Regions from separate parts of the Homo sapiens genome. Here region 2 is linked to region 1. Evidence: fine-mapped expression QTL. A gene starts in region 1. The other region holds a variant in brackets. All regions are shown on one strand. Distances are between the middles of the regions.

The links. PIP is the estimated chance that this variant, and not a neighbour inherited with it, causes the effect.
Region 2: its variant is fine-mapped to the expression of SLC15A3 in whole blood (INTERVAL, PIP above 0.99).

What each region holds. Positions count from the first base shown.
Region 1 is chr11:60,949,220-60,954,591 of GRCh38, reverse strand. It overlaps SLC15A3 (solute carrier family 15 member 3), which reads left to right and starts at 2,416. Exons shown (of 8, transcript NM_016582.3): 1 at 2,416-3,598. The coding sequence starts at 3,041. RefSeq lists an enhancer at 2,104-2,243 and silencers at 2,424-2,653, 2,974-3,133.
Region 2 is chr11:60,888,103-60,893,474 of GRCh38, reverse strand. It overlaps PRPF19 (pre-mRNA processing factor 19), which reads left to right. Exons shown (of 16, transcript NM_014502.5): 16 at 2,212-2,928. The coding sequence ends at 2,309. Among named protein-coding and RNA genes, the nearest start is that of PRPF19, 16 kb to the left of the region's middle. The variant A/TA (reference allele first, on the strand shown) is at 2,890.

The DNA of each region.
Region 1 (5,372 bases):
CCTACCTTCTCCCCAGCTAAATGTGTCCCCAGGACTTTCCCCAGTGAACCAGCCCAGCACCTGGCCCCCTGGTACCTTGGAGATGGAGGCTGGGCAGTAAGAAAGACGCTGGGCTGGGTGCGGTAGCTCACACCTGTAATCCCAGCACTTTTGAAGGCCAAGGCAGATGGATTACCTGAGGTCAGGCATTTGAGACCAGCCTGGCTGACATGGTGAAACCCCATCTCCACTAAAAAACACAAAAATTAGCCGGGCGTGGTGGCACACGCCTGTAATCCCAGCTACTCAGGAGGCTGAGGCAGGAGAATTGCTTGAGCCTGGGAGGCAGAGGTTGCAGTGAGCCGAGATCGTGCCACTGCACTCCAGGCTGGCCAACAGAGTGTGACTCTGTCTCAAAAAAAAAAAAAAAAAAAAAAAAAAAGATGCTGCACTCCTCTTTTCTTTGCTACTTTCCTCTCCTGGGTTTTTCTCTGCAGGCCACACTGCTTTTAGAAGCCTTTCCCTTCATCTACCACCCGCTGAACATCACCGATGGCAGGCCAGCACTCTCTCAGCTCTCTGGGTAAGACTCAGCTCTCTGGGCTAAGTCTGAGCTCATCTGCCAGCCTAGTGATCTTGCCAAGAGAGGAAGGAGCTGGATCTGATGTGATCTGAACTTCGTCACCATACCGTCACAGCTGATGACCTAAGCTTCCTCCAAGTCGAGGGATGGTGCAGCTCCATTGAAGTCTCCTCTTCTCTCCTCCAGGCTCTGCCCACCTCACGAGAGCACATGGTCCTGACTGCAGTGACTGCAGGAAGACCTGGGATGGAGGGCTTTGCTTTCTCACCATCCTCTTGGCCTGGCTTCTCTAACATGTTAAAAACTTACAGTGGCCCACAACTGTAATCCCAGGACTTTGGGAGGCCGAAGCAGGTGGATCATGAGGTCAGGAGTTTGAGACTAGCCTGACCAACATGGTGAAATCCCATCTCTACTGAAAATACAAAAATTAGCCAGGCGTGATGGCACGCGCTTGTAATCCCAGCTACTCAGAAGGCTGAGGCAGGAGAATTGCTTGAACTCAGGAAGTGGAGGTTGCAGTGAGCCGAGATTGTGCCACTGCATGGCAGCCTGGGCGACAGAGTGAGACTTCGTCTCAAAACAAACATACAAACAAACAACAACAACAAAAAATCCCTCGCTTTTTTGCTGGTATCTATAGTGCTTTTTTTGCTGGTATCTATAGCTTTTGTGAGACTCAGTTTATTTAGCTTTAGCTTTCCTGATATTATTATTCTTACAAATTTTGCCTTGGGACACTCTTTCCATTCATTGATTCAGGCAATACTTATTGAGCACCTACTATTTGCCAAGCACTGGGAAGCCATTGAGAATAAAACAGTGAAGAGTTAGAAAAGGTCTCTGATCTGATGGAGGGCCTATTCTACTGGTGCTAACTGAACAAGTAATATGTGCTCTGAAGACATTAAAACAAGACAATGTGATGGGGGATGCTGAGAATCCAGTAGGAAACTACTTAGATGGGAAAATCAGGGAAGGTCCCTACAAAGGAGACATATATGCTGAAACCTCAATAAAGAGAAGCAGCCAGCCATGCAAGGATATGGAGGGAGAGCAGTTATGGCAGAGGGGTCAGCAAAGACAAAGGCCCTGAGGCAGGGAGGAGCTTAGCATGGAAGGGGAACCTGGGAGGCCGGCTGGCTGGACTTGAGTGAACATGGGGCTGAGATGAGATCAGAGGAGAGCAGAGGCCAGATCCCCCGGGCTCCTAGGTCAGGGTGGGGCTGGTGCTTAGGAGTTCTGAGGCTGACTCTGATTTAGTCTGAGGTCGGTGTCCCTCTCAATCCCGACTCACTTGTGGTCCTCTATGGCCCGCAGGCTTGTTGAAAGTGCCCCACTTCCTTCCTCACAGCAGCCTCTGTGCAATCCGAATTGCGCTGTGAATTTCCCTGCCACTCAGGAGCCCGGGGCAGGGCTTCACCCCTAGTTCAGTTACCAGGAACCAATCTTTCTCCACCTTCCTGCCCTAGCCCCACTGGGTCTGTCTCTGCATCTGTGAAATGGCTGAGTGTGACCAAATGATGCAGGTAGCCTTTCCACTTCTTTCTACCCGTGGCGCCTCGGGTGGAGGCGTGGAGTTTGATTGGAAGAGGGTAAAGCAAAAGTGGAATCCTGGCGAGAAATGAAACTGAAAGAAAAAATTCCTCCTGGAATTTTTTGGCTCTAAGGAGGCCAGCAGCGGGGGTTTGGGGTAGGAGGCAGAGGTAGAGAAGGAGGGAGGTTTTTAGAAAGCTGACCGGGCAGGAGCCCTGTGACCCAGGCTTTCACTTCTCCTAAACACCCAGTAGCGCCATGTGATGCAGGCAGGGGACTGCGGATAGGGCCTGTGAAAGGGGAAGCGAGGGGAGCCCAGAGTTTCTCAAGAAGCCGAGAGAGGGACAGAGGCTGAGCCTGGGGGGAGGGCTGCAGGGGACTGAGAGGGGAGTGTAGGCAGTGGGGGTGAGGGGGACAGGGAGGAGGTGGAGAAGACGGCAAGGGGCAGCAGGGTGACTGGGGCAGAGGGAGCCCCCACCCCACGCCCAGGGCAGGCCAGGAGTCATAAGGAGAGGGGACAACAGGAAGGGGCGACAAACGGGGAGGGGAAAGGGAGGCGGAGGGGCAGCGAAGTGAAGCAGGGAGGGTCGCAGTGTGAACAAGAGTGCGAGGAAGGGTCAAGGTGGAGGGAGGAGAGGGGAGAGTTAGGGAGAAACAGCTGCAGGAGAGGCGCGGGGAGGAAGCCTTAGGGGTGGGGGAAGGGAGAGGGGAGTTGAGAATTAGGGAGGAGGTGGTAGAGTCCGGGTAGTGAGCGGAGGGACAGGAAGGGTAGGGCAAGAAAGGGAGAGGGGACAGGAGGGAAGGGTGGGCCAAAGCGGTGAGAAAGGAGGGCCAGCCAGTTGGGTGGGGGAGAGGGCCGAGGCCCGGGGGCAGGAGTGCAGGGCTCTGAGGCGGGGAGAGGAGAGGAGAGAAGAGCCGCGGGGGGCCCAGCCCGGAGCCAGGATGCCCGCGCCGCGCGCCCGGGAGCAGCCCCGCGTGCCCGGGGAGCGCCAGCCGCTGCTGCCTCGCGGTGCGCGGGGCCCTCGACGGTGGCGGCGGGCGGCGGGCGCGGCCGTGCTGCTGGTGGAGATGCTGGAGCGCGCCGCCTTCTTCGGCGTCACCGCCAACCTCGTGCTGTACCTCAACAGCACCAACTTCAACTGGACCGGCGAGCAGGCGACGCGCGCCGCGCTGGTATTCCTGGGCGCCTCCTACCTGCTGGCGCCCGTGGGCGGCTGGCTGGCCGACGTGTACCTGGGCCGCTACCGCGCGGTCGCGCTCAGCCTGCTGCTCTACCTGGCCGCCTCGGGCCTGCTGCCCGCCACCGCCTTCCCCGACGGCCGCAGCTCCTTCTGCGGAGAGATGCCCGCGTCGCCGCTGGGACCTGCCTGCCCCTCGGCCGGCTGCCCGCGCTCCTCGCCCAGCCCCTACTGCGCGCCCGTCCTCTACGCGGGCCTGCTGCTACTCGGCCTGGCCGCCAGCTCCGTCCGGAGCAACCTCACCTCCTTCGGTGCCGACCAGGTGAGTGGCAGGAGGCCTGCCCCGGCATACTCCGGCGGGTGTGGAGGGAAGGAGGGCTGGCCCCCAGCGTGACCTGGGACAAACCAGGTCCCCTGCCTGCACTAGTTTCCTGATTTGAAAGAAGAGGGGGGCTAGCCCTTGCAAAACCGATGGCAACCGCAGTGGGAATAACCATGGTTGTTTTTTTGTTTGTTTTATTTTTTGAGACGGAGTTTCACTCTGTCGCCCAGGCTGCAGTGCAATGGCGCGATCTCAGCGCACTGCAACCTCAGCCTCCCGGGTTCAAGCGATTATCCCTCCTTAGCCTCCAGAGTAGCTGGGATTACAGGGGCCTGCCACCACGCCCAACTAATTTTTGTAATTTTTTTTTTTTTTTAAGTAGAGGTGGGGTTTCACCATGTTGGTCTTGAACTCCTGACCTCAGGTGATCCACCTGCCTAGGCCTCCCAAAGTGCTGGGATTACAGGCATGAGCCACCACGCCAGGCAGGTTGGTCTTTTTTGAGCTACTTGCAGGCCCTATGCTAAGCACTTTCACTGTTTAACTGATTTAATACTCTTCACCACCCAGGAAGTAGGAATTATTATGCCCATTTTACAGAGAAAGACACTGAGAGGTTTCATGGCATTAATCAACTTGCCCAAGGTGACATGGAGGGTCGAGGAGCCGAGTAAAGGCAGCTGGACTCCAGGTCCCACCATGAACCTCCTCTCTGTGTGTTATGGGGATGTGCGGGCAGGGCAGGAGCAAGCCAGCTTCTTCCTACCAGCAGTGCTAGAGGCTGTCAGGCCGACTTGCTCAGATCCCAGCTCTGCCTTTCACTAGCTGGAGCCACATGGGCAAGAACTCATTTATATCCTGAATGGGCTGCCTGGTCTTCTCCCTTAGCTCAACCTCTGAGCCTTTCTCCGTTCCCCCTTGAACAGAGCATGGCACGTAGAAGAAATTTAATAAGTATTTGCTAAATGAATGAGTAAATGCCCAACAACACGGCTATATTTTGATAGCTGTTCCCAGTGGGATATTAGACAATAATTTAGACTAAAATGTAATATTATTAAAATAACCACATATGGTGTAAATGAGCAAAAGCAGGAGGCAGGACTGCATACAGATAGGACTGCAGCCATGTGGAAAGACGAGGTGTCAACGAAAGGAAACTGGAAAAAGATTGTCACAGTGGTATGATCAGGCCACTGGACTAATTGCACTTTCTTCTTGTCTCAGTTTATCAAATGTTCTTTGATTGCACATATTATACTCATAAAGGGGACATTTTTCAAAAGGATCGTTTCATCCAATTGGCACCCACAATTCAGCACCTAGCAGTTTCCAGTGTCCTTGACAAGGAGTCACTTGTCCAGCTTGTTTAGGATCCTTTGATGATGACTTCATGCCCCCAGGCCAGCCCTGGCCATCTCTTTTCTTTCTTTCTTTCTTTCTTTCTTTCTTTCTTTCTTTCTTTCTTTCTTTCTTTCTTTCTTTCTTTCCTTCTTTCTTTCTTTCTTCCTTTCTTTCTCTTTCTCTCTCTCTCTTTCTTTCTCTTTCTTTCTTTCTTTCTTTCTTTCCTTCTTTCTTTCTTTCTTCCTTTCTTTCTCTTTCTCTCTCTCTCTTTCTTTCTCTTTCTTTCCTTCTTTCCTTTCTTTCTTCCTTTCTTTTGACGGAGTCTCGCTCTGTTGCCTACGCTGGAGTGCAGAGGTGCGATCTCAGATCACTGCAACCTCCACCTCCCGGGCTCAAGCAATTCTCCCTGCCTCAGCCTCCCAAGTAGCTG
Region 2 (5,372 bases), 61 kb after region 1:
TGGAGTGCAATGGCATGGTCTTGGCTCACTGCAACCTCCGCCTCCTGGGTTCAAGTGATTCTCCTGCCTCAGCCTCCCGAGTAGCTGGGACTTCAGGCGTGTGCCACCACATCTGGCTAATTTTTTTTTTTTTGTACTTGTATTTGTAGTAGAGATGAGGTTTCACTATGTTGGCCAGGCTGATCTCAAACTCCTGACCTCGTGATCTGCCCACCTCGGCCTCCCAAAGTGCTGGGATTACAGGCGTGAGCCACCGCGCCTAGCTATATTATACTTTTATACAACTGGCAGTGTAGTAGATTTGTTTATACCTGTATCCCCACAAACGTGAATAATGCATTGCATTGTGACATGATGATGGTTATGACATCACTTGGTGATAGGAATTTTTCAGCTCCACTGTAATCTTATGGGACCAGTGTTTGTGTGGTCCGTCGCTGACATGTCATTATGTGACACATGACTCTATGGCATCCTGAACTGCAGAAGGGAGTAGGGGCCTAAGGCTTCTAGGGGGTGGTGGTGACACAAGTTATGTGGGGGGATGGGGAGGAAGTGCACTACAGAGTCTCTCAGGTAATAAAAGTTGTCTCAGAGCAGACCTTAGATAAATAATGCATGACAGTCTGTGACAAAGACTGGCATCTAGTCTTCTCTCTTGTGAGACCAGTTCATTTTCCCTGGTTGAGATTCCCAGGAAGGGGATTCATGATGTTCCTTTCAGATGACCTGCCCTTAGAGAAAGAGGGGCAAGAGACAGGAGGGCAGGACATGGTCAGAGAGACCTTGGTTCAAAGCCCTCAGCGTGCCAAACCACCATACTTTGGGGTATTGTTTTCTGAGATCCAATATTACTTAACCTCTCAGAAAAGTGGGAATGGTAACTATAGACTCAGTGGGGTTGTTGAGGTTTAGATGAAAATACATACAGGTGCTCCTTGATATACGATGGAGCCACATCCTGATAAGTGCATCATAAGCTGAAAATATTGCAAGTTGAACCATGGTAAATCGGGGACCGTCTGTGAATACATAGGTCAGAACGGTGTCTGGCACGTAGTCAGGATTTGCAGTTGTTCTCACTCAGCATTGGGTCTTAGTCTGTGGTGGGATAGAGCAGTGAATAAAACAGACCCGATTTGGGCACTGATGTAATTTATAGTCAGGTTAGTAAGGCAGATGTAGATTAATTTCACATGTACACATTTAATTGCAATTATAAGTGCTAGAGAAGAAAAGCATGAGATGCTGAGAGAATGGGTAACAGGGTTTCTAACCTAACAGTTATGTGGCCCTGGGTACGTGACTTTCCCTTTCAGATCTTGAACTCCTTCATCTAGAAAATGGGAATATTGGCACAGCTTTGCAGGGTGTGACAGCTGGTGTTGTGGAGATGGCATGCTAATATGCTGGTAACAGGGTGCCTGATGCTCACTTAAGATGCTACATGAATGGGAGCTACTGCTGTGTGTGTTGATGAAATTCTCGTCCTCATTAGCAGGTTGTGAGCAGGATACAAGATATTTCTTCTTGCCCCGTATTCTCCTGAGCCCTGCTCAGTGTGTTTGTATAACAAAGGTGTCCATCCTAACAATATGGCTCACCGGTTTTCACCCTGTACTGTACCTGGTGTTTTGATTTAGAACCGAGTTAGGTAGCTGAAAATACAGCGTGAGCTTTTTAATGGGGAGTTGGTTGACTCCAGGTGTGATCCTAAATCTAGAAGGAATTTGGCCAGATGTTCATGAATTTCTGGAGTCCCATGAGGAATGTTGCCCAGCCTCATCTGCCTCTTATCTGGTCCTGCTCTGTGTTAGGGGCCTGAGTGCCCTGGGGTTGGAACACTATGAGCTAGAAAATGCTGATGGACTGTTCCACTTACGAGCAAGTAGTGAGCACTAGGCATAAACAAGCTGAGCTCTGAGGTTTTTCAACTAAACCTAGCCGAACTGCAGTTGCCCAGAAAGCTCAGGTGAGAAGGGGGGGCTGGCATTGCTTTATTCATTCATCCCACCAGTGAAAAATGCCAGGCACTGAGGGAGGCACTGGGGGTAGTGTGCAGGTCAGCCTAGGGAAAACAAACAGGAGCCTGCGGTGTGATAAATACTAATTAGAGAAGGCCTGGTTGTTTGGGAATCTGTTATTAGGGATCAGTGTTCAGACTAAAGGAGGAAAAGCCTTCTCACAGTTGCCTCTTATCTTTCTCCTCAGAGCATAGCGGCCTGACCACAGGGGTGGCCTTCGGGCATCACGCCAAGTTCATCGCTTCAACAGGCATGGACAGAAGCCTCAAGTTCTACAGCCTGTAGGCCCTGGCCCTTCTGATGGAAGCTGGGCCTCATCTCAGTAGAGGGGTAGAATTAGGGTTTGGGGGGGGGGGTGGGGGGAATCTATGGGGGGAGGGGGCTCTGTGGGGTGGGACATTCACATCATTTCACTCTGGTCTGAGTGGTGGCCTGAGAACCATGGTGGCATGGACCACCCTCATCCATGCAACTCCAGGCCCCATGGGAACGGATGTGGAAGGAAGAACTGTCACCCTCTTAAGGCCCAGGGTCGGAGCCCAGGGCCTCTCCCTTCCTGTCGTTCAATGGACGTGGTGGTGGCTGTTCCACACCCATTTTGTTGCAGTTCCTGTGAGACAGGAGAGGCTGAGCCAAGGGAACTGTGAAGGGGATGGGCAGGAGGGCTTGTGCAGGGTTTTGTAAGCAGTGATCTAGTTTCATTAAAAAAAGAAAACAATAACCATAACCACCTCCCCGTGTCTGTCTGCACCAGGAGCACCTGGGACTGGGAAGGTCAAGGGGAGGGAGCACACACTGGGACACTGGCTTCCGGGAAGCCCATCTTCCTTTCCTTTCACAGCTCTTACCCTTTTTTTTTTTTTTT[A/TA]ATTGCACAGCAGAAATAAAAACAAATCTGCAGATGAAATTTGCCATGTCCCTGCGGTTCTTGACCTTGTGTCTAAAGGCCTCAAGTCACTAGTCCTGCCACTTGCCTTGTAGACTTGGTTTCCTACACAAGCCTGGAAGGGAGGGAGACCTGCAGGGAAGATTAGCTGGATCTTGCTGGTGGGGAGGTCTGAGCATCTCCATCAGGGTTCTTTAGTTGTAGGCTTTCTAGCCTGTCCTCAGCTGGCATAAGTCAAAAAGGAGATTTTTTTATTGACTCTGGCGATTGAAAAGCTGTGGTAGGACTGGTTTCGGGACAAAGATCTGATAATGAATGTGCCTTATAGGGAATTCCTGTAGGGTCACGTGACTGCTTTAGATTGCAGGTCAGGAAAGGCCTCTGAAGTGGTGGTGATGAAGCTGAAGCTGGAATGAGAGGGACCTGAGAGGGGAGGAGTGTTGGCAGGCAGAGAGCAGGTTCTAGGGCTGGACTGAGCGAGATATATGGAGGAACAGGAAGGAGGTCATGGTGGCAAAGTCGGGGGAACCATGGTGTACAGTCTGGGGTGATTGACAGTCCCCTGACAAGGGCCATCCCAGTGGAAGGTCGGGGCTGGCTGCCTCCCTGGAGTGGGGTAAGAGGATATGAGGTGAGGAAGTGTGGGAGTCAGTGATTATAGACAAAAAATAGTGCTGAGAAGGGGAGCTGAGAAATGGGGTGTTACCAGGAGGGGAGCTTTGGGGGCAAAGTATGGTAGGCCATATTGTGGACATAACAGGAGACCTCCAGGCATGTTTTGCTGGGGCAGTGTTCTGTTGTCAGGGAAGCTCGGCATGCCGTATCTGCCTGGGAGGGTCAGGATGCCTACTAGCTAGGGAAAGCTGAAAAACCCCACAGTAAAGAAACCACTTAACTTATACAAGTTGAATATAAACCATTTAACTTACACCAGTGTTTATTATTAAGAAAAGACCTGGGCCAGGTGCGGTGGCTCACGCCTGTAATCTCAGCACTTCCAGAGGCCAAGGCGGGCGGATCACGAGATCAAGAGTTCGAGACCGGCCTGGCCAAGAAGGTGAAACCCCATCTCTACTAAGAATACAAAAATTAGCTGAGCATGGTGGCAGGTTCCTGTAATCCCAGCTACTCGGGAGGCTGAGACAGGAGAATTGCTTGAACCCAGGAGGTGGAGGTTGCAGTGAGCTGGGATTGTGCCACTGCACTCCAGCCTGGGGGACAGAGCAAGACTCCGTCTTGGGGAAGAAAAAAAAAAAAGACCAATCATACAGTTCTCCCAAGGCAGGACATACTTTAAAAAAAAGTTAGGACAACTGCCTAGTTAAAAGGTGGGCTAACAACAGCTATGGTTTGCAGATGGTAGAATGGGTCACTCGAGTGGGAGAGGGTTGAGGTCGAACTCCCGACCTCAGGTCATCCGCCAGCCTCAGCCTCCGAAAGTCCTGAGATTATAGGCGTGAGCCACCACGCCCAGCCACTCATTTAATTCTTAAAACAACTTTGCCCTTGGCCGGGTGTGGTGGCTCATGCCTGTAATCCCAGCACTTTGGGAGGCCGAGGTGGGTGGATTGCCTGAGGTCAGGAGATGGAGACCATCCTGGCCAACATGGTGAAACCCCATCTCTACTAAAAATACAAAAAATTAGCTGGGTGTGATGGTGCATGCCTGTAGTCCCAGCTGCTTGGGAGGCTGAGGCAGGAGAATCGCTTGAACCCGGGAGGCAGAGGTTGCGGTGAGCTGAGATTGTGCCACTGCACTCCAGCCTAGTGACAGAGCGAGACTCTGTCTCAGAAAAAAGAAAACAACCTTGCTCTTTGCTGTCCAGCAACTCAGCAGATTCTTGGTCCCTGCATAGGACTTCATACCGCTCTTCCTTTGCAGAACGGAGCAGAAGGTGGGAGCATAGTCCTGGCACTGGACTCTCTGGCTTTGAATCCCAGTTCTGGCACTTAGTTGCTGCAAGACCTTGGACAGATTATTTAACTTTTTTCTGTTTGAGTTTCTTCATCCAAAAGATGGGGATAGTGTACTTACTAGAGATATAGTAAGGATTAAGTGAATGTGACAAGTGCTTAGAATAGGAATTGCACATCATAAATGCTGCTACTATTAACTATTACCACTCTCCTGCTCCCTCTCCCTGGAGTCTGCCCTCCCCAGAGATAGACCAAGTCCTTCAGGAAGCCTCTGGAGCCCATTGCTGCCCTGCCAGGTGAGTGAGCTTTCTTGGAGCCCATGGTTCATGCCTTTAGCATAGCTCTGTGTTACCTTGAAGGTGTTTGCGCATTTGTCTTTCCCACTTAGAATCTTAAGAGCAGAACCAGGTATCCGTTGCTATCATTCATCTCTTCAGCTCATGTCACACTGCTGCCAAGTGGCAGATTGAGAGATTCAACCTTGGGGCTCAGTCCAATGCCCAGGCAACGTCTGTCTCTTTCTTTGATAAGTAAACACAGAGGGCTTG